Linked DNA regions of Homo sapiens. The protein of the gene in region 2 interacts with the protein of the main gene of each other region in a biochemical or structural test. Each region holds a gene or a part of one and is shown on either strand. Other genes may lie near its edges.

What was found.
Region 1: the proteins of TOM1 (region 2) and BBS4 form a complex in vitro, tested with the Homo sapiens proteins (one study listed by BioGRID).
Region 3: the proteins of TOM1 (region 2) and ZFYVE16 form a complex in vitro, tested with the Homo sapiens proteins (one study listed by BioGRID).

What each region holds. Positions count from the first base shown.
Region 1 is NC_000015.10:72,731,104-72,738,213, forward strand, and holds part of BBS4 (BBSome complex member BBS4), read left to right. Parts: intron 1-201; coding exon 202-354; intron 355-451; coding exon 452-623; intron 624-4,009; coding exon 4,010-4,079; intron 4,080-4,721; coding exon 4,722-4,863; intron 4,864-5,658; coding exon 5,659-5,860; intron 5,861-6,374; coding exon 6,375-6,484; 3' UTR 6,485-7,110.
Region 2 is NC_000022.11:35,316,880-35,323,989, reverse strand, and holds part of TOM1 (target of Myb1 membrane trafficking protein), read right to left. Parts: intron 6,114-7,110; coding exon 6,029-6,113; intron 2,249-6,028; exon of another isoform or gene 2,143-2,248; intron 2,032-2,142; coding exon 1,953-2,031; intron 992-1,952; exon of another isoform or gene 963-991; coding exon 813-962; intron 495-812; coding exon 360-494; intron 223-359; coding exon 76-222; intron 1-75.
Region 3 is NC_000005.10:80,446,051-80,453,160, reverse strand, and holds part of ZFYVE16 (zinc finger FYVE domain-containing protein 16), read right to left. Parts: intron 5,136-7,110; coding exon 4,757-5,135; intron 3,571-4,756; coding exon 3,448-3,570; intron 2,731-3,447; coding exon 2,575-2,730; intron 1,677-2,574; coding exon 1,452-1,676; intron 1-1,451.

The DNA.
Region 1 (7,110 bases), on a different chromosome or scaffold from region 2:
GCCAGAGAGCCACAGTGTAGAGTGCAAGGACATTCCTCAGGAACATTTGTCCCAATAGGTTGGATATATTTATGTCCCTGGAAGAAATTTTCCAGTCCCATCTATGCTGATGGGCCTGCTGAGTATAGACTCAGGAAAGCTGCCCCACTGCTACAGCCTTTTGGGAATGACTGAATGACTTTCTCTGTGCCATGTTTTCAGGCCATCTTGGCAGCAGGCAGCATGATGCAGACCCACGGGGACTTTGATGTTGCCCTCACCAAATACAGAGTTGTGGCTTGTGCTGTTCCAGAAAGTCCTCCACTCTGGAATAACATTGGAATGTGTTTCTTTGGCAAGAAGAAATATGTGGCGGTGAGTGTCCCCTCATGTTCTTTGTTTGTATTTCTACATGTGGTTATTGGGTCTGTTTAGCTTGCCCTTCTCATTGAGTGCCCCTTCTCTCTCATAGGCCATCAGCTGCCTGAAACGAGCCAACTACTTGGCACCCTTTGATTGGAAGATTCTGTATAATTTGGGCCTTGTCCATTTGACCATGCAGCAGTATGCATCAGCTTTTCATTTTCTCAGTGCGGCCATCAACTTCCAGCCAAAGATGGGGGAGCTCTACATGCTCTTGGCAGGTAAGAAACATTTATGTGGAAAACTCTCTCTGCCATCTGTAATGAGGGAAAAATGGATTAGAATCATAGAAGATCAGTGGCTGTCTCATAGGAGCCATTCCCTTAGAGATCCTGTAGGAATCTGGATTACTGTCCTGGAGCTTGAAGAAATAGAAAAAGATGACAAAGGAACTTGGTTGTTTCTAACTTGGGGGAGTTTGACTCAGAGACCAACAGGTTAAATAAAGATCATCCCTAGTTCACCTTTTACCAGTTTTTTCCTCTTGCCTTGACAATTCATTTATGTATATATTGAGTCCAACTAAGTTCCAGACAGCAAGTGTTAAGAGCTTGGGTTTTAGGTAGGGTCCTGCCTCTACTACTTATTATATGTACCTAGGGCTGATGTGAGGATTGCATGATTAAGCTCTCAATTAATAATACTGGTTTTGTTGAAATACTGATTTTTGAAAACTGTTGGTTTTACTGTGGTTATATAATTGGTCTATTATTATCAATATTGTTGTTACTATAATTGGCCCCTAGGTGATACTTCCAAGTCAAGCTACCTTATGTTGAAACCCTTATCTCTTCTGAGCATGTTATATAGAATGCCATTCTCTTCCTGAAACTCCATTTTATGCCATGCAAATACTAAAATTGATCATAAAAATAAGTTAAAATTAATCAAACACTTTAACAATTATGCACAACCATTTTAAAGTACTGACTAGTCTTTCTAGGAATTTTTTTCTCCATATACATTTACTTACTAAATGTAAGACCCAAAGCAGATTTCCATGTCCTCATTTGGCAGTCGTCTTCCAGTGGCTTTTTGTTCATTACTGTGGGTTCTTATTTAAAAGAGAAAGCTTGCAAAAGCAATTGTGGTTATTTGAGGGTTGCCTGAATACAAAGATAACTTTAAAAAAAAAACATAGGTTTTATTATTATTCAGATATGGTATGGGCAACAGATCAGAAGACATCTGCCACTGGAAAGATAGTCTGTTACAATTCCTGAGAAGGAGGGCATGCTACACCGTGCAGGGCCACATGGGGAAGCACCAGGTCAATCAGGAGGTAGAGGGAGCAAGGGGTAAATGTGGGCACAATTCTTTATTGTAGTTTTCATGGGTAGAAATGCCCTCCCCGGGGCAAGACCGGGAAAGCAGGTTAACCAGGTTGGGGATTGGCCAGTTTGAATAATTTCAGTGGGCTCTGGGCTATAGGGCTGTCTCTAGGTGTCTGGTACCTGACCCTCGGGTGACTAGGACTAGGGAATATTGGCCCAGTGTCAGGGCCCAGTAAAGGAGGCAGTTAAGAATATGAACACTGGGTTGGTCGGTCTGCATACAGAAGGTACTCTTGTAGGGGTTATATCTAGGAATTAGCTGACTGTGGGAGGGACAGTCTCCCCAGGGTCAGTAAGGCCCCAGATGTCAAAACATCAGAATAAAAAGGCTAAAGTGGGGTGTGATGGTACATACCTGTAGTGCTGGCTACTTGGGAGGCTAAGGCAGGAAGTTTGCTTAAGCCCAGGAGTTGGGAGTACAGCCTGGGCAACACAGTGAGACTCCATTCCTCTCTCTTTTTTTAAAAATTTTATTTTAGGTTCAGGGGTACATGTGCATCCTGTTACACAGGCACGTGTGTCATGGGGATTAGTTGTACAGATTATTTCATCACCCAGGTACTAAGCCTAGTACCCAATAGTTATTTTTTTCTGGCCCTCCCCCTCCTCCAGTAAGCTCCAGTGTCTGTTTCCCTCTGTGTCTCCATGTGTTCTCATCATTTAGCTCTTATAGTGAGAACATGCAGGATTTGGTTTTCTATCCTTTATTAATTTGCTAAGGATGGTGGCCTCCAGCTCCATCTATGTTGCTGCAAAGGACACGATCTTGTTCTTTTGTATGGCTGTGTCGTATTCCATGGTGTACATTTACATTTTGTTTATCCAGTCTACCATTGATGGGCATTTAGGTTGATTTCACATCTTTGCTATTGTGAATAGTGCTGCATTGAACACACACATGCATGTGTCTTTATGGCAGAACGATTTACATTCCTTTGGGCATATACCCAGTAATGGGATTGCTGGGTCGAAGGGTAGTTGTATTTTTAGCTCTTTGGGGAATTGCCAGATTGCTTTCCACAATGGTTGAACTAATTTACACTCCCATCAACAGTGTATAAGCATTCCCTTTTCTCTGCAGCCTCACCAGGATGTTATATTTTGAGTTTTTAATAATAGCCATTTTGACTGGTGTGAGATGGTTATCTCACTGTGGTTTCAATTTGCATTTCTCTAATCAGTGATAGAGTTTTTCATATGCTTGTTGGCTGCATACATGACTTCTTTTGAAGTGTCTGTTTATGTCCTTTGCCCATTTTAATGGGATTGTATTCTTCTTGTAAATTTGCTTAAGTTCCTTATAGATCCTGGATATTAGACCTGCATGGTTTGCAAATATTTTCTCCCATTTTGTACATTGTCTGTTTACTGTGTTGATAGTTTCTTTAGATAGCTGGGTTCTAATGGAACACAGAAATGTAAACAGCCATAATGTAAGAGATAACAGCGATGCTAACTTTACAAAGTAGAGATGGCATTCAAACTGGATCCTGAACAACAAGCTAAAATGGAATAGCACAGAATGGCTGAGGAGCCACTGTGAAGAAAGGCATGCAGCCATGAAACTGCAGTGTCCCTTGCTGTTAGTGGGGGTTAGTGTTAGAGAATATGATGGGAGATGAATCAGGAAAGATATTCTGGGGTCAGATTATGGAGGTCATGCGTACAGTGCAAGGACTTTATCTTAGAGGCCATGTTTGTCCAGCTGTCTTCCTAGATCTCCTCTTAGGTGCCTGGTAGGAGTGAGTGCATAGCTGGTGGGGAGGTGGAATGGGCAGGGCTTCCAGAGCAGCTGTTTTTGTTTTATATATTAGGTGTCAAGGAAATACTGATTTTAAAAAGTGGGGGGAGTGTTTTACTGCTAAATGAAAGTGTAAAGATCATGGTTATAGATGTGGGGGGCCAGTGAGGATTCCTAAGTAGGATGGTAATGTGGTCAGATTTGTAAGGCAGTGAGATACCTGGCAGCGCTGTGGAAGGTGGAATGGAGGCAGGTGGGGACTTTGACACTGGGGAATAAATGGAAAGCCTAAAACTACTTGGGCCTGAACAAGGGCAGTGTCAGAAAAGAAACTGCAAAAAAAGGATGCATAGAACCTGGCAACTGATTGACTGTAGAAGAGATGGTTGAAGATAGCACCAGGTATCTAAGCTGACTTAGTAAACTCTGGTGCCATGAGCTGACAGGGTGAAGTTTACTTTGGGGGTAGTCTTTAATACTCCTTTTGTCTTCTAAGCTGAGCTCTCCAGCTGCAGTGCTTTCTTTGTTGCAGTGGCTCTGACCAATCTGGAAGATATAGAAAATGCCAAGAGAGCCTACGCAGAAGCAGTCCACCTGGATAAGTATGCACTTTGTTGAGAATGGTACTGGCGGGGGTTGGACTCTCCAAAGCCATGAGGTGGTGCCATACATAGCATTGGTGCTGCCTGTGTCAGCCCAGCTGTTCCTCTATGGCATTAGTACATAGCAGACCTCAGTGTGGAGGGATGTGTCTCCTAAGTATGTGGTGGCTCAGCAGGAATTGACACTCTGAGAAAATGTTTCCAGTCCTAAACTGAGTAATCAGGAGGCTAGAGAATGTCAGAACTGGCAGTGGGCTTGGGTTGCTGATAGCTATGGGCTAGCTGGAATATCAGATGGGACTCTGGGCTGTTTAATTCAAGATAAAACTTGACTCTTCCAGGATTTACTCCGCTGGCATCTTCTAGACAGCAGGGTAGAGATCCCTTTTTCAACCCTGGCCTAGGTAGTCTCTGTTGAGGGCTGAGATGCCAGATTTGGTCCCAATACCAGCTTTGCTTGTTAGGCCATTAACTCCTTGATTCTTCTCCACAGGTCTGCTTAGCACGTATGTACCTACCTTGCTGCATAATGGAGAAATCTCTACTTAACCAGTTTTGTTTTGTTTTTGTGTAATGAGAAGGATCTCTAAATGACCATTTGTTGCAGAGCCCCCAGCTCCATAGAATCTCTGTCTGCCACAGGTGTAACCCTTTAGTAAACCTGAACTATGCTGTGCTGCTGTACAACCAGGGCGAGAAGAAGAACGCCCTGGCCCAATATCAGGAGATGGAGAAGAAAGTCAGCCTACTCAAGGACAATAGCTCTCTGGAATTTGACTCTGAGGTATGTCTTTTATTAGCTCCCAAGAGTCATAAGTAAGCTCTCAGGAGACTTTTAAAAATCAAGCCCAGATCATCCAAATCCAAGGTATTACACGTTCATGGCTGTTCTGGCTTTGATGTTCCTAGCAGCATGAGTTCATCAATTAATAACAGCCTGAGAAAAACTTTCCTAGAATAATAATAAAAGGAAATTCAGGCTTACTGAGTTGTTATTGCTAATTCAACTCATCAAAGTTGAGGTCTGTGTCTGTCTGTAGCTTCCTTCTATTTCACTTTTTTTTTTTTTTTTTTTTTGAGACGGAATCTCGCTCTGTTGCCCAGGCTGGAGTGCAATGGCGCAATCTCAGTTCACTGCAACCTCCGCCTCCTGGGTTCAAGCAATTCTCCTGCCTCAGCCTTCCAAGTAGCTGGGACTACAGGCGCGTGCCACCACGCCCAGCTAATTTTTGTATTTTTAGTAGAGACGGGGTTTCACCATGTTGGCCAGGATGGTCTTGATCTCTTGACCTCGTGATCCACGTGCCCAGCCCTATTTCACTTGTTGTAGGAAATGCACTGTTTGGCCCGGTAATGCACCAGGCTTGAATTGTTGGGTTTTGAGATCCTATGTGAACCACCATGCCATCCAGTAAAGGCAATCTGTAATCTCTACTGTTTGATAAGTACTTCCTGCCTCAACTGCTAGTACGACCAGACACTATTTCAGCTAAAACCCCAGCTCGAAGACCAAAGAAGTGGGTTGGCTTGTCTCTGACAGTCACGCTTTTGATTCTTTTACTTCCTTTGTGGACACAAGATGGTGGAGATGGCTCAGAAGTTGGGAGCTGCTCTCCAGGTTGGGGAGGCACTGGTCTGGACCAAACCAGTTAAAGATCCCAAATCAAAGCACCAGACCACTTCAACCAGCAAACCTGCCAGTTTCCAGCAGCCTCTGGGCTCTAATCAAGCTCTAGGACAGGCAATGTCTTCAGCAGCTGCATACAGGACGCTCCCCTCAGGTAGGACCATACAGAGCTCCATGAAGACCTGGCAGGTACAAGCCACATGTGTCTGTCAGCAGAGATTATAGCTTTCAGTGAGGTTCTCTTCAGACTCATATGTCCAACGTAGTATTGGCCACAAGGGGAGAAAAAAAACACAGGGTGGCTAAATTGGCACTTGTTTCCTTAAGGCGAGCTATGTAGTAGGTAACAGCTACTCACAGACTTAGTTGGATGGTCTATACACTGGTCTTTCCAATTTTAGCAATATGTTATTAAGTATATCCTGTTATGCAATGTTTAATTTTTACTGCTTTATCAGAAGTTGACACGTAAATATTTTTCAGTGACTCATTGAAGGCAAACTTGACTGTTGCTTTATTTCTCAGTTATAGTCTTCCCTTATAGTTAATGGGTCAGTCCCACTGGTTCCAGAAAATATGGGGTTTCCTCTTGAACTCTAACAGCAAAAAAGAATGATTTCTTCTGAAATTGTGGAACATGAGGATTCAAGTTTTTATTTTGTTACTAGGTGCTGGAGGAACATCCCAGTTCACAAAGCCCCCATCTCTTCCTCTGGAGCCAGAGCCTGCGGTGGAATCAAGTCCAACTGAAACATCAGAACAAATAAGAGAGAAATAAGAATAGAATGAATGACCCCAAAATAGGGTTTTCTTGGGCGAGGATGTGCTGGATTAGGAAAGGTGACATGACACAGGCAGAGCAGAGTGGCACCCACCACAGAATACAGTGTGTGTTATTACGAGGAGCCAGCAGTTGAGCCTAAGGTCCTTCTACCTACCTGGTATTGGCATTTGAGGTCGGAAACCCTCTACTGCCCCATAAGCCAGGAAAAGTGAAAAGAGAACACAGTTCCTTTAAGAACTGGCAGCAAGGCTTGAGGCCTTATGTATGTAGCTGAGTCAGCAAGGTACATGATGCTGTCTGCTTTCAAAAGGACTTTTCTCTCCTAGCTGACTGACTCCTTCCTTAGTTCAAGGAACAGCTGAGACAGACCTCTGCTGAGTAGCTCTGTGATGACAAAGCCTTGGTTTAACTGAGGTGATCCTCAGGTTGTGAGGTTTATTAGTCCCCAAGGCAAACACAAATATTAGATTAATAATCCAACTTTAATAGTATACATTTAAAAGAAAAAAAACAAAAGCCCTGGAAGTTGAGGCCAAGCCTGCTGAGTATTGCAGCTGCATTTGCCCAAAGGGAATCCAGAACAAGTCCCTCCCTGTATTTTGTTCTTGAGAGGGGTCAGT
Region 2 (7,110 bases):
TCTGACAGGGGGCCCTCCCTGACGTGTGTGGCCCACCTGCCTGGACCTGACGGTTCTGACCCCAGGCTCGTTTACCTGTTCCGGGGTTGGTGCTATGGGCGTGTCACCGGAGAGTATGGGCGGGGCGGGCAGAGGGGCAGCATGCTGGCCAGAGTCCTCTTGCTGGCTGGAGTCAGTGCCCACAGAATCCTGTCCTGATTGTGTCTCTGAGTTGAACACGGTCTAGTGGGAGGAAAACAGGATCAGTGAGGGCTCCTGGGAACATCAAGAGCCCAGGAAGTCAGGGGCCAGCCTGGTGATGTCTCTGGGGATGAGTCCTGCCTCCCTTCCCTTGGTTCCCGGTACGGCAGTTCTCTCACCCTCTGGGGTGTGTGGATGGGTGACAGCATGTCCAGGTCAGTCATGGGGAACTCCAGGCCTTTCCTCCGCAGGTCCTCATAGATGGTGACCACACCTGTCAGATCGGGCGAGCTGCGGAACGCGTCAGCCCAGGACTGAGAGGGGACAAGGGGACACAGCCGGTAACCACAGCTCACCTGTGAGCCTGCCCACCTGGCACTCAGACAGAGAACAGACATTCTTTCCCTGCTTTTTTTTTTTTTTTAACTACATCTGCCCTGCCCACTCCACAGCAAAGCACGCAGTTGGCAAGCCTCCCTCCCCACAGAACATCCCACCAGCCGACAACCGAGACGCCCCGAAATGAGAAGCGGAGCCTGGGACAAACACGATGGCCTCGACTCTCCACTGGGCAGGAAGCTCCTGCACTGACAGCTCTTCCTGGCCGTGCCCTGCCCTGTCCTGGCACTCACCTGGATGAGGTTGAGCACTTTGTCATGCACGATGGTGGGTGGGTTGTTCTTGGGCAGGATGGTCCTCACCAGCACACTCTCCACGAAGTCCTGGCTGGCCACCAGCACGTGGAAGCGGTGCCCGCAGTTCTTGACACAGGTTTCTAAGACCTGGAGGGCCGAGAGGTGCCGTCGAGCACCTTGGTCAGAGGAGAGGAGGTGCTCAGAACCCCCACCCTCGTGGCTCCTCCTGTGTCCCAGAGAGGAGGCCCGGGAGAGGAGATGGGACTTCCTGGAGTGAGACCCTTGAATGTGGAGGACTGGGACAATGCCAGGACTGGGGGACTTGTTTACTGGAGGGCACGGCCTAGGGTGGGCAGAGGTATGGTGTGTGGGCTGGACTTCCTTCCCTGACTGGCGTCAGTGCACGCAGAATCCCAATGCTGTCTCTGAGCTAAACATGGTCTAGAGAGAAGGGGCTCTCCAAGAGGAAATCAAGGAGCATCTGAGATGTCAATCGACTGGTGAGCCTGTGGCCCAGGGAAAAGGCACTGAACTTCCCTCCCCACTCTCCACTTCCCACTGCAGGAATTGCCTTTGCTTTTTGCTTAAGCCAATTCACCTGGATATAAATGCTGCTTGTGGAGGAGGGTGGGACAGCATTTATATCTTCCCCAGCCAAACCCATGCTGACGGCTAGGAGGCCCACGTGTGTCTGGCCGCCCTGAGATCTGGGCTGGTTCAGTGGTGTGGGCAAGACTGTTCTCAGCCACTGGTATTTATTTTACATTCATTTGCCAGAGCACCAAAGTGCCGAGCAGCACCCAACTCAGTCAGCCGGCCTCCCTGCCCCCGCGGAGGCCTGGGTTTACTGAGCTTCAATGTCACCCACAGGTCCTTTGGCCCAGGCTCTCCCTGCCAGTGGTTCTGGAGTGATGTAAGCGTCTGTTCCCATGCTGGGGGATTGGGGAGAACCTTTCCAAATGGCCTCTTGCCATTCTGCATCCGCCTGCAGTGTAGACAGGACAGTGCGTTGCCTACAGACCTTTCCAGCTCTCAAATGAGGAGCTCAGAGGAGGCTGGGAGTCCTGCTGGGTCTGAGGGGAGGTGACTTTCAGTGGACCGTAGTCCTGCCACAGGACAGACAGATGGGGCACTCACTGTGAGAGCCAGCATCACCTCGTGGAAGTTCTTATTCCCCACGATTCTCTTCTTTACTGCTCGGAGGGCATCTTTGGGACTAAGGAGGACAAGAAAAAGGGTGGGCTTAGGAATAGAGCCCCCTTACCTAACACCAGAGACCCTGGAGAGTTGGAACAGTTCTTATTGGCCCATCCTCCCTGTGCCCCACCTGTTTTGTGTATCCAGCCAGGTTCTGATCACATCAGAATCTTCCTAGCCCATTGCTTAGCAGGGACTCACAACCTGTGGCCCCTGGACCTCCAGCAGCAGAGTCACTTTGAGAAAAGATGAGAGCGTTTTGTTAAAAGTGCAGAACCTGGCCGGGCGCGGTGGCTCATGCCTGTAATCCCAGGACTTTGGGAGGCTGAGGCAGGTGGATCACTTGAGGCCAGGAGTTCAAGACCAGCCTGGCCAACATGGTGAAACCCTGTCTCTACTAAAAATACAAAAATTTGCCGGGCGTGGTGGTATGACCCTGTAATCCCAGCTACTTGGGAGGTTGAGGCGGGAGAATCGCTTGAACCCAGGAGGCAGAGGTTGCAGTGAGCCGAGATTACGCCACTGTACTCCAGCCTGGGCAACAGAGTGAGAGCCGAGATTGCGCCACTGTACTCCAGCCTGGGCGACAGAGTGAGACCCTGTCTCAAAAAAACAAAGGACATTCAAAAAAAAAAAGCAGAACCCTAGGTCCCCACCCTAGACCACCTGAACCAAATTCTCAGGGAGTGGGGCCCCTGAATCTGAATGCTTCTCATGCTCCCCAAGGGTTTCTTATGCATGCTCAAGTTTAAGAACAAATAACCTGGAGGCATAATGTTTTCATTACAAAAATAGAGATGGGGTCTTGCTATGTTGCCCAGGCTGGTCTCAAACTCCTGGGCTCAAATGATTCTCCCACCTCGGCCTCCCAATATGTTGTGATTACAGGCATGAGTCCCTGAGCCCAGCTAGCATAGTGTTCTGATGCCCCGTCCTGGCCAGCTGCTCTATCTGTCCATTTACCCTTCCATTCAAGTTTTTTTTTTTTTTCCTTCTGAGACAGAGTCTCACTCTGTCGCCCAGGCTGGAGTGCAGTGGTGCAATCACAGCTCGCTGTAGCCCGGAACTCCTGGGCTCAAGTGATCCTCCTGCCTCAGCCTCCCAAAACGCTGAGACTACCAGTGTGAGCCACCATGTCTGGCCCATTCAACTCTTATTAAGCACCCAATATGTATGTAGCACCATGCTAGGTGCTGGGGACACAGTGGCAAACAAGACCATATGGCCCTGCCTCCTCCCCACCTTGCGGGGAGATCCAAAGAAGAGCAAGGAATAAGCAGGTCCTGGAAAAAGAGCAGAGGTGAGGATGGGGGTGGTCAGAAAAGACCTCCGAGGGGGTGGTCTTGTAGTTGGGCCTTGAAAGATGGGAAGGACCACCTGGGGGGAGTGGGGGCAGAGCAGTTTGGGTCAAGGTCAGAGCCTGGACCAAGGTCTTGGGTGCAGAGGAGCTTGATGCCTTGGAGGAACTAAGAGGAGGCCACACTGAGTGTGGGGGAGGTCGGGGAGGGCTGAAGAAGCCTAGGGGTCACGGTGTTGGGAGGCCCCTGGAAGCTGGGGTGCCAGCCTGCTCTCCCTGTCCCCTCTGTGATTCCCACCATCCTCCACCCTCGGCCCTATACAGGTATACTCAGTGCTGCCCTGACTGCTCTTGTCTAAAAGCCTTTGTGCAGGGCCCCCACTTGCACCCTGAAGGCTCCTGACCTCCACATCCATGAGGTGAAGCCTCAGCTAAAATCCACCCCTTCCACAACACTTTCCCAGGTCCTCCAGTCTCCCTGGCCTGTTCTGCCATGCCACATTGAACTGGGGGCCCACCCTGGGTAGAGAAGAAGCTTGCTAGAGGGCAGGGATGGTGTTCTCTTTGGACAGCTTCCCTTCCTAGAGCCCATCACACTACTGAAGCACAAGTAACATTTCTCAGCCTGGCCAGTGGCCACTGGGACCCATCCGGCTGTCTGCCTGGCTGTCAGTGCTGACCCCATCCAGGACTAAGGCAGGAGAGCCTGGAACCCTGGCACTGGTTCTCAGCAGGAGTGAAGGCAGAGGCAAGGCTTCCTAGGGACAGAGCCTGCCTGGGGGCTAGAGCTATGGAGGCGGTCAGGCCTGCGGTGGAAGGGACACGGTGGGGAAAGGGATGGTGGCCCACCAAGGGGGGTCCTGGCCCAGAAGCCTGAGAGCAGTTTCCAACCCTTGCCTCCCTGGGCAGCCCCTCGCCCGTCCCTGGCTCCTGGTCTTGGCCTGGCCACTGACCCACGGGCTACTTCAGCGCTTTATAGTGACTTCTTTCCACCTCTTCTAGGGTGGCCTAGACACAAGGGAATCAGAATCATTCCCTGGCATGTTCCGCCATGCGCCACTGACCTGGGGGCCCACCCTGGGAGAGAAGAAGCCTCCTAGAGCGCAGGGACAGCGTCCTTGTTGGACGCCTTCTCTCCCTAGAGGGAAGCACTGGGAATCGGAAGTTCTGGCCTTGCCACTGCTGTGGGCCCATGATGTCCGGTACTCTGCTGGGAGCACAAAGTGTATGACAAGGAGGCCACAACCCAGTGGGGGAGACACTTTAGCAACGAGGCTAAGTTTAGGTGCCATGCTTGGTGAGGTCAAGGGTCATGCCTGCCTTTGATCACTGCTGGGTCCCTAGTGCCTCCTGTGTTGCCTGGAACACACAAAGTGCTCAAATAAATAGCAATGCACCTGACCGACGCCGAGCCTGTTCCTCCCATGTTTATAAGGGACATGGGGGCTTGCTGTCCCCAAGGATACTGCAGTGACTTGCAGCTGCGACGTCCATGAAGCTCCCAGGCCTGTCTAGAGGCTTGGTGAGGTTTTCTGCCTCCTGCTTTCTTTCTTCTGACCTCTGCCCACCACTCCTTCCCTCACCCTCACTCTCATGAGTCCTTGGCAAGATCAGGGAGCAGGGCTGAGGAAGACACCGGCAGGTTCCTGGCAGCCACTGCCCTCTCCTGACTGGGCCTTGACTGTGTGACTCAGATGCCCACAGCCTCCCTCCAGCTCAGAGCTGGGCACTCCCTGCCCTCCACCTGCATCCAGCCTGCGCCTCTCCACGCAAAGCCCTCCCGGGCTGAGAGGAACCCTGCACTGGCCGCGGGAGAGCTGGATGATCCCAGTGAGAACTGGAGAGGGAAAGGAGGGTCCACACTGATTTCTCAGGATGGAGGCCTCGTCTGGCAGCACTTCCTGCTGCCCACGGCTCCCACACCTCTGCCCAGCCTTCGCTGGGTTTTCCTGAGAGGACAGGGACCCTCGCATCCCCTTTCTGCTCCCTCCAGGGACTCGGGCTTATTGCTGGAAGGATCTAACAGAGCACCTTCGAGGACAAAGACCTAGAGAGGTAAAGTGACTTCCGAAGGTCACACGGCTGGTCAGTGACAACGAGTCAGACATTGGAGGCCAAGACCCCAATCCTTCCCCCACACCATGTGCCTTGGCAGGGCTCCTTGGCACTGAGCAAGACGATACCGTGACCCCAACACCAGAAACGCCCGGCAAACGCCAGTGCTGTTCAGGCTCACGGTTCAGCTTCACTTTCCCTGCCATCCTTGTGATCTCCCTTACCCTCCAGGCTGGTTTCAAATCTTAAGGAAATGGAAGTCTGTTTTTGCTCGCAGAAAAGCCGGAGTCTCTCTAGTACACACTCCCGCCTGCAGAATGCAGATGGCGCTTGGGGTCAACTTCTGATTAAGAGTCTCCAGCTTGCCTCATCCTAGGCAGATGCTGCACACAAGGCTGGGCTTCCAGATCCGTGTGGAATCTGGGCTGCCACTAAGAGAGGCGGGGTGGGGTGGCAGCCCCCAGGGGCCAGCTGTGAATTCCTACCTTGGATGGGGCTCAGGTACTAGGGGCTCAGATGGCCTCTGCAGCCAAGCGGGTTGGGTCAGACTTGGTGGCTATGGCAGCAATGGGGCTGGGGCAGGGGCTCCCTGGAAGGGTGCAGGAGTGTGCTGCGTGGTGGGATGGCCGTCTCTGCCCCCAACCTCTCCTTGGGGGGCCCTTACCCTTCCTCCGTCTCGTTGATGATGTCGCAGATCTCCATGTTGAGGGCCCAGTCCTCGCTCTGCAGGGAGCCATCTGTGGCTTTCTCTGAGAAGAAACCAGGAGTCATAAAGTCATGAGGGGGTCCTGAATGGGTAAACTCAAACCGTGGGTGGGAGAGGAGGGGGGTGCAGGGCCGGATGAGATGGGGAGGAGGAAGATGACAGACACTTCCTGGGCACAGGGCCTGGCCCTGTGTGAGACTGCTCTATACACATTGTCCCATCGTCACTAGATTCTTGTAGCCACTGAGGCCGGAGTACCTCTGCTCTTCAATGGATGAGGAAACCATGACTCTGAGTGCACCAAAGGGATGCACCAGAGGGGAATCTAGGTGGGCCTCCGTGTGCTTATTCCTGACATGACAATATGGAGACAGTGCTTTGCTTCATTTCTGTAGATAAGATGTTCTCCCTTGACTTTAGAATTATCTTTTGAGCTGGGCGCGGTGGCTCACGCCTGTAATCCCAGCACTTTGGGAGGCTGAGGTGGGTGGATCACCTGAGGTCAGGAGTTGAGACCAGCCTGACCAACATGGTGAAGCCCCGTCTTTACTAACTACAAAAAAGTAGCTGGGCATGGTGGCACATGCCTGTAATCCTGGCTACTTGGGAGGCTGAGGCAGGAGAATCGTTTGATCCCAGGAGGCGGAGGTTGCAAAGAGATTGAGCCATCACACTCCAGCCTGGACAACGAGAGCGAAACTCCATCTCCAAAACAAACAAACAAACAAGCAAAAAAGAATTATCTTTTGAGTTGGTAACCATTCACAGGATACAAAATGTAAAAGTTCTCAAGTGGTATACAATGGAGCTAGGTAAATCTATCTCTGTCCCCTGCCCCAGCCCCCTCTTCCTAGAGGCATCCCCTGTAACCAGGTTCCTCTAGAATCTCACAGAGAGCTTCTTTACCTAGGAAGCAAACGCTCCATTACTAACAGGTCACCTGGCCCTCCTGTACCCTTCTGAGGCACCCACAGAAGGGACCGATGCCGAGCCACCCAGCAGAACTACCCCAAAGAGAGGTGATGATTCATGCAAGGTAC
Region 3 (7,110 bases), on a different chromosome or scaffold from region 2:
AAAATTTCCAAATAGATTCTCTCTTTCTCTCAATTTGTCTATTCTGAAATAGTAATCACCACTTTTATAGCTTCTCAACATTTAATTTTCCTCCAAGAAAATCCCTACCAAATTATATTAGAATCAAATGTCTAAAAAGTTCATTAGACGTGATATACTTCAAATGCAATAAATATATTATTTCTTGAAAAAAGTCAGATAAAAGATACAGTGGGAATTCAAAAAAGTTTAACACTAGAAATGATTCTAACTCAGAAATAAGCATATATATAAACATCACAGCAGCTTTAGAATCACCAGTTGTGTCAAGGGTAGATAAGTAAATACACACACGTACATACACATGAATGATACAGGCTCTATCACCTTTGAGAGACAAACATCAGAATATAAAAATAAGAATCATCAAGCTTAGAAAAATAACCACAATTTTTAAGTACTTCCTTCCCTAAAAATAGTTAGCTTTTAATTATAGTGAGTAACTGAAAACAATAGCACTGCTAACCCAAAAATCCTTTATGTCTGGCTTTATGATATAGAAAAATTGAGAGACGCAACGATTTATCTTCTTAATATGCAGGCAACATAACAAACTCCCAATAGTATATGCTTTTAAGAAAATTTTAGCAAAAGTAATTAACACATATCGAACATCCCAAATCTAAAAACCTGAAATCCAAAATGCTCTGAAATCTGTAACTTTTTTTTTTTTTTTTTTTTTTTTTTTGAGACGTAGTCTTGCTCTGTCACCCTGGCTGGAATGCAGAGGCATGATCTTAGCTCACTGCAAATCTGCCTCCTGGGTTCAGGTGATTCTCCTGCCTCAGCCTCCTGAGTAGCTGCAATTACAGGCGCCTGCCACCTCACCCAGCTAATTTTTGTATTTTTAGTAGAGACAGGGTTTCACCATGTTGGCCAGGCTGGTCTCGAACTCCTGACCTCATGTGATCTGCCCGCCTTGGCCTCCCAAAGTGCTGGGAGTACAGGCGTGAGCCACCATGCCCGGTCTATAACTTTTTCAAATGCCAACGTGATGCTCAAAAGAAATGCTCACTGGAGCATTTCAGATTTTGAATTTGGGATGCTCAACTGGTATGTACTCTGTGAATATTCCAAAATCTGAAAAAGTCCAAAATCCAAAAAACTGATCCAATACATTTCAGATATGGCATACTCAACCTGCACTGTGAAAGTTTTCTGTTTTGTTCTGAAATTTAAGAAGAAAAGTTTTAGGTAATAAAAGAACTTATGAACATCTAGAAACTTGAAGACATACCACAGTTATCTAGACCAACCTGGTAGTAGAAGAGGGTTGTCTTAGAACTTTAAAAGCATAGCAAAACAAAAGTAGTTCCATTAATCCATTAAAATTGATTTTAATGATTCCCTGAAAGTCTTTACATTCAGTATATTTGAAAATATGCAATTTAACTTATTACTCTAAAACTTACCTTTATATTCTGCACCCAATCTCAACATTAAACGCATAGGAAAAACCTTTGCCCAGGGAATCTCAAGCTTCTGGATAAGAATTCCACAAAGAAAAGGATTACTTGGTAATGAGAGATCATCAAGTTTCTGAAAAGTAGGTGTAATAAACAGGAATCCTCCGTGATCCTTGCTACTGAGAAAACTCTCAGTAAAGGTAATATTGTCCAAGTTTTCTATGTATTTTCCTGCAAATAAAATCATTAGTAAAAAGATTTTAAGTTGTTTTGTTATTGTTTTGAAGAAATGTTCTTAGTTTGTCCAAAATCCAAAAAACTGATCCAATACATATAAACTGTCCCAATATAAACTGTCTGAAGTTAAGACACTATAGATTTTTTTTCTTATTTCTGTTCTTGCAAAAGCATCTATTAAATACCTTCTGTACACAAAGCTCCCAGTTATTCCTAGATATTGGGGATTATGAACAAAAATTTGAAAATGTTTCCAACCTTCCAATTTTTCTCCTTACGGCATGGTCAAGTGAAAAATTATCAAATCTCCTAGTCTTGTACAGACAGTAAGGAAATTACATAGATACACTGAAAAATCAAGGAGGCAGGCCAGGCACAGTGGCTCATGCCTGTAATCCCAGCACTTTGGGAGACTGAGGCGGGCGGATCACTTGAGGTCAGAAGTTCTAGACCAGCCTGGCCAGCATGGTGAAACCTTGCCTCTACTAAAAATACAAAAATTAGCTGGGCATGATGGCATGTGCCTGTAATCCCAACTACCTGAGAGGCAGAGGCAGAAGAATCGCTTGAACCCGGGAAGCAGAGGTTGCAGTGAACCAAGATTGTGCCACTGCACTCCAGCCGGGGTGGAGACACTGTCTCAAAAAAAAAAAAAAAAAAAAAATGGATATAAGGATATATTTCCATTTTTAAAATACAAAAATCTGCATAGACACTAATCACATAAAATGCTAGTTTTAAGGAGACAAAATAATTATTAAGCTATTTTCAGAAATCAGCAATCTCTTCACAGAAATAAATCTTTAGTATAGCTAGCACAGCCAAAACCATAAATGCCTTTAACTAATTTATCCATTCCCCAGTCTGAACAGTTCAAAATAAAATGCCATACCTTTTAGAGCATCCTTATATATGGTGATAAATAGTCTGAAGATGTCCTTAGGAATAGTATCTTCATTTGGCAAACATAACAATAGAATAATAATTTCTGCCTGTCCCAAGCCATGCAATCCATTGGTTGAAAAGTACCAATATTTGTCTGAGGAATCTTAGATGATAAAAGAATATAACTATTAATGTCAACTTCTATTAGTCAAAAAACTAAGAACAATTGTTTTTGCATTTAACATAACTTTTCAAATTCCTTGTGTTCCCAAAGTTCTCCTTATGAAAACCTTAAATTGAATTGTATAAGATTTATATAAAGTAAGAAAAAGGATTATCATAGGGAGCCAATTAATAAATAACACTAAAATAAAAGATGCACTAAATGCTGAAATGTAGTGGATAAGAATTTAGTTTCAAATAGAATGAAAAGCTGACAGATACATTATGGAGTAGTGAGGATTATTAATTATTAATGATTACTTCCTTTTTAATTAGGTCACATGTCACTTACTTTAAAACTGTCTTTATTGCTACTAAATCAGGGTTCCTGCTTATTTCAGTTACCAAATTTCAATTTATCTAAAAGCCACAGGAAATATAGTCAATTGTATCATGAGTATCAAAATACAGCTCAGTTATATAAGCCCATGACCTTAACCTAAGATTGACAGGGATGCTAATAAAAATCTGTAAGCTCATGTTTCAAGTCCTACTGAACATAAATTTGCAAAATTTATTTACAGTCATATGTGGCTGAAAAACCAATATCCAATCCTGCTTATTTTTCACCATGGCCAGTCAAAATCTAACCTGAAGATGTAATTAATTCAGAAATCCTGCTTACCAATTAAGCAAATAAGGATAAATTATTACTTACAAAATATGAATTTGACATTCACGAGTAGATTAGCATTTAGGACAAATGTAACAGGATGAAAGCTTTCACCTTCAAGAAGCAAAATGATCTGCTCATGAGATGGATGTTCTTCTACTACAGGCACTAAATGATGAAAGTAATATATTAATCAGGATAAATATCCTGTTAAATATGCTTACAAATGAAAAAAACAAATTTATAAATCCACCAGTGGCCTGATCAAATTTAAAAACAGAAGCAAACATGTTTCATAAAATCAACACCCCAGACAACTGTTATATACTAATTTTTACCTCTTTCCATGTAAAGTTACTAATACTGTAATGCATATATTACATATAGTATATTTATACTGTTGATTAAACAGCAAATGTATATAATTTTAGCACCTTCAAAGTTTGAAGACAAACGTTTTTATAAAGTAGATTCCAGTTTGGTAAGCACTCCATTTATAATTTTTGATATTTACAAGTCTATGAAAGTAGTCTAGAGCCACGTTATATATGCTGCTTGTTACCACATGCCTATATCAGCTACTTGCTACCATATGCCTATATCAGTGACCAGGTAGCAAAAAAAAAAAGATCTTGACAATCAATAGAAAGATATGCATGGCATACAAAGAATAGGGCTTACTATATTTTTGCCACTACAGCTAGGTTCATGTAATGGCTCCCACTGACAGAACAGAAATCCAAAGCTTCATTCCTCTACATTATCACGCAGAGAACCGCCATTTCATATTGCAGAATGTGACATAATGCCTGGAGTGACAAGTGTCTATCCTAGAAACCACTCTGGGGTGGGGGTTAGCCATAGAATCTCCTGCTTGAAAAGGACCTTAGAAATCATCTAGGTTCTATTTACAAAGGAAACTGGGGCCCAAGGAGATTAACACACTACAAGTCATAGATGTAAAAAGTAGCAGACAAGGAACTAAAATTCCTAGCTTTGCCATCCAATCTAATGCTCTTTTCTTTAGGTATCATGCTCCTAAAAAAAAATAGTAATAATACAGTGTCAAAATTCTAATACAATGGAAATATTTCTTCGGGCTAAAAGTCTATGAGCTTCCCTCATAGACTTAATCATTCGAAATTAGTGGGCCAGATGTGATAAATGGATCATAAAAGTTCAAATATTTTTAGAATTTGTTTTTATATAATAAGACTTTCTGTAAACAAAAGTTACCAGCCTTAGTACATATTGCAACCAAACTAAGTTAAAAAAATACATTTCATATGTCACAGATAAAATTCATCAGTATATATTTTTAAATCTTTTTAAATTTAAATAACTGCTTCCCTACCTGATCCCTTTTCTCCAGATGCAACCAGAAGTGGGGGCAAACTGTCCTCATCATTAGGTAGAAGACTAATCTTATTGCAGACATACTTGTTAATATCACACAGTAACCTATAATCTGAAATACTAGCAATAGGTAAATTGCTGTTAACTAAGACACCAGTAGGACTAGATGGTTCTTCAGTTTCTGCAAAAACATCATCATCTAGTGTAAATGAACCAGAAGTAGGTAACCCCTCATTTCCTGTGTTCATAGACAATTTTTCCACTGATGGAACCTGAGAAATAGGACTCTGAATTATCTCATTTCTTGTAATATCTCCTGTCTCATTGTTTGGCTTTTCCACTGTAGTAGAATGGGAATGATCCACTGTGTTTACTGTCTGTAAAATATGTAATAAAAAAAATAACAAATCAGTTCATATTCTCTGTTCAACTATGAAATGAGATCACTATAGCCAAACATATCTTTTTAATAAGAATAAATAAAAACCAAAATGCGTTCAGAAATTCTCTTAAAGTCAAATTTCCCAAGAAACAGTACCATTTTGATTCTTCAAATTCAGGAGCATAAGGAATTAAGAAGCATAAGGTTTTAGTTTTACTGCATGCTCAGGCAGGTATTAATGACTTAATATTAAGATTGGAAAAAATGAGGCAAGAAGAACTTCAAGATCCCATACCATATCACACAGTGAGCAAGCTTAGTTCAATCCAAGTCTCTCCCCTTCTTATGATAGCCAAAAACCCTTGGGTAGGCAGGGAGGAGGGACAAGGCAGGAAGAAGGGGAGGGGAGTGGTTAGGAAGCAGTGCGTTAGCTATATTCCACAAGAGTAACCACCTGGAAAAAACTACCCATAAAGACTATTTCAATAAAGCCTTTTTCTTTTTAGACTGTACAAAGTCAGTATTAAATAAGAACCATTTATGAACTCAATATTTACTAGCCTGTTGAGAATTTTCATTAATACAGATTGACAGTGCGTGCTAGCTAGGAAACATACCCATGGTAATTACGGCTATTTGTAAAGTCTAGCTCATGAACTCTTGACAAACAGCATATGTTTCTACCAAATGTAAATTTCAACAGAGCTGATAAATATTCATCTTTTCTCTCTTTTTTTTTTTTTTTTTTTTTTTTGAGATGGAGTCTCACCCTGTTGTCCAGGCTGCAGTACATTGGCGCAATCCTGGCTCACTGCAACCTCTGCCTCCTGGGTTCAAGTGATTTTCTCCTGCCTCCGTCTCCCCTAGTAGCTGAGACTACAGGCATGCGCCACAATACCTGGCTAATTTTTGTATTTTTTTTAGTAGAGACGGGGTTTTGCCATGTTGGTCAGGCGGTCTTGAACTCCTGACCTCAGATGATCCGCCCACCTCGGCCTCCCAAAGTGCTGGGATTACAGGCATGAGCCACCGCGCCAGGCCTAGTATCCATCTTTTCTAATATACGTACCCAGAATCGACCAGGTGACTGGCACAAAGTGATGCTCAATAAATCTATTTAATGCATAAAACATTACTAATTCATACATTAATAGTTGCTTCTATGAGTATGTGCCACTTTACAATGAGAATTCTTAGTGATCTGGATTCTATATTATATATCTTCTGTTTAACACCTAGCACATTTGTGTAAATGTAAGCATAAATATCACCATCACATACTTTCTTGAATGTTTGAAAATAACTAAATAGATATTAGTATAAATTAAATTACTAAATCTCAGTTACATTTCCCCATACCACTGGTTCTCAAAATGTGGTTCAGAGATCCCTGGGGTCCCCAAGACACTTTCAGGGAATTGGTGAGGTCCTAGAATTTTTTTCATATAATTTAACAAAAAAAATAACATATCAAAACACACAGAATGTAGAACCAGATGTGAGAATATGTTTGTCTTCTATTAAGCCAGACATTAAAGAAATTGGCAAAAATGTAAAATAATGCCATTATTCTCACTAAACTTTTGTTCTGAAAAAAATTTTTCATAAAATATTATTTCTGCTAATGTAATAGCCTTATTTTGTAATTAGTTAATAAATATTTTTTAAATTTCTGAATTTTAATTTTAATATAGTAATTATCAATAGGTACAACCCACGAAATCTATAGCACTTTAGGGTTCTCAATAAGAGTATAAAGGGGTCCTGAAGCTGAAAGTGTGAGAACCAGTCTCTTAAACTGACATTTAAAAAAGGTAAAATCTGGGCCAGGCACGGTGGCTCACTCCTGTAATAACCAGCACTTTGGGAGGCCGAGATGGGCAGATAACTTGAGGTCAGGAGTTTGAGACCAGCCTGGCCAACACGGTGAAACCTCGTCTCTACTAAAAATACAAAAATTAGTCAGGTGT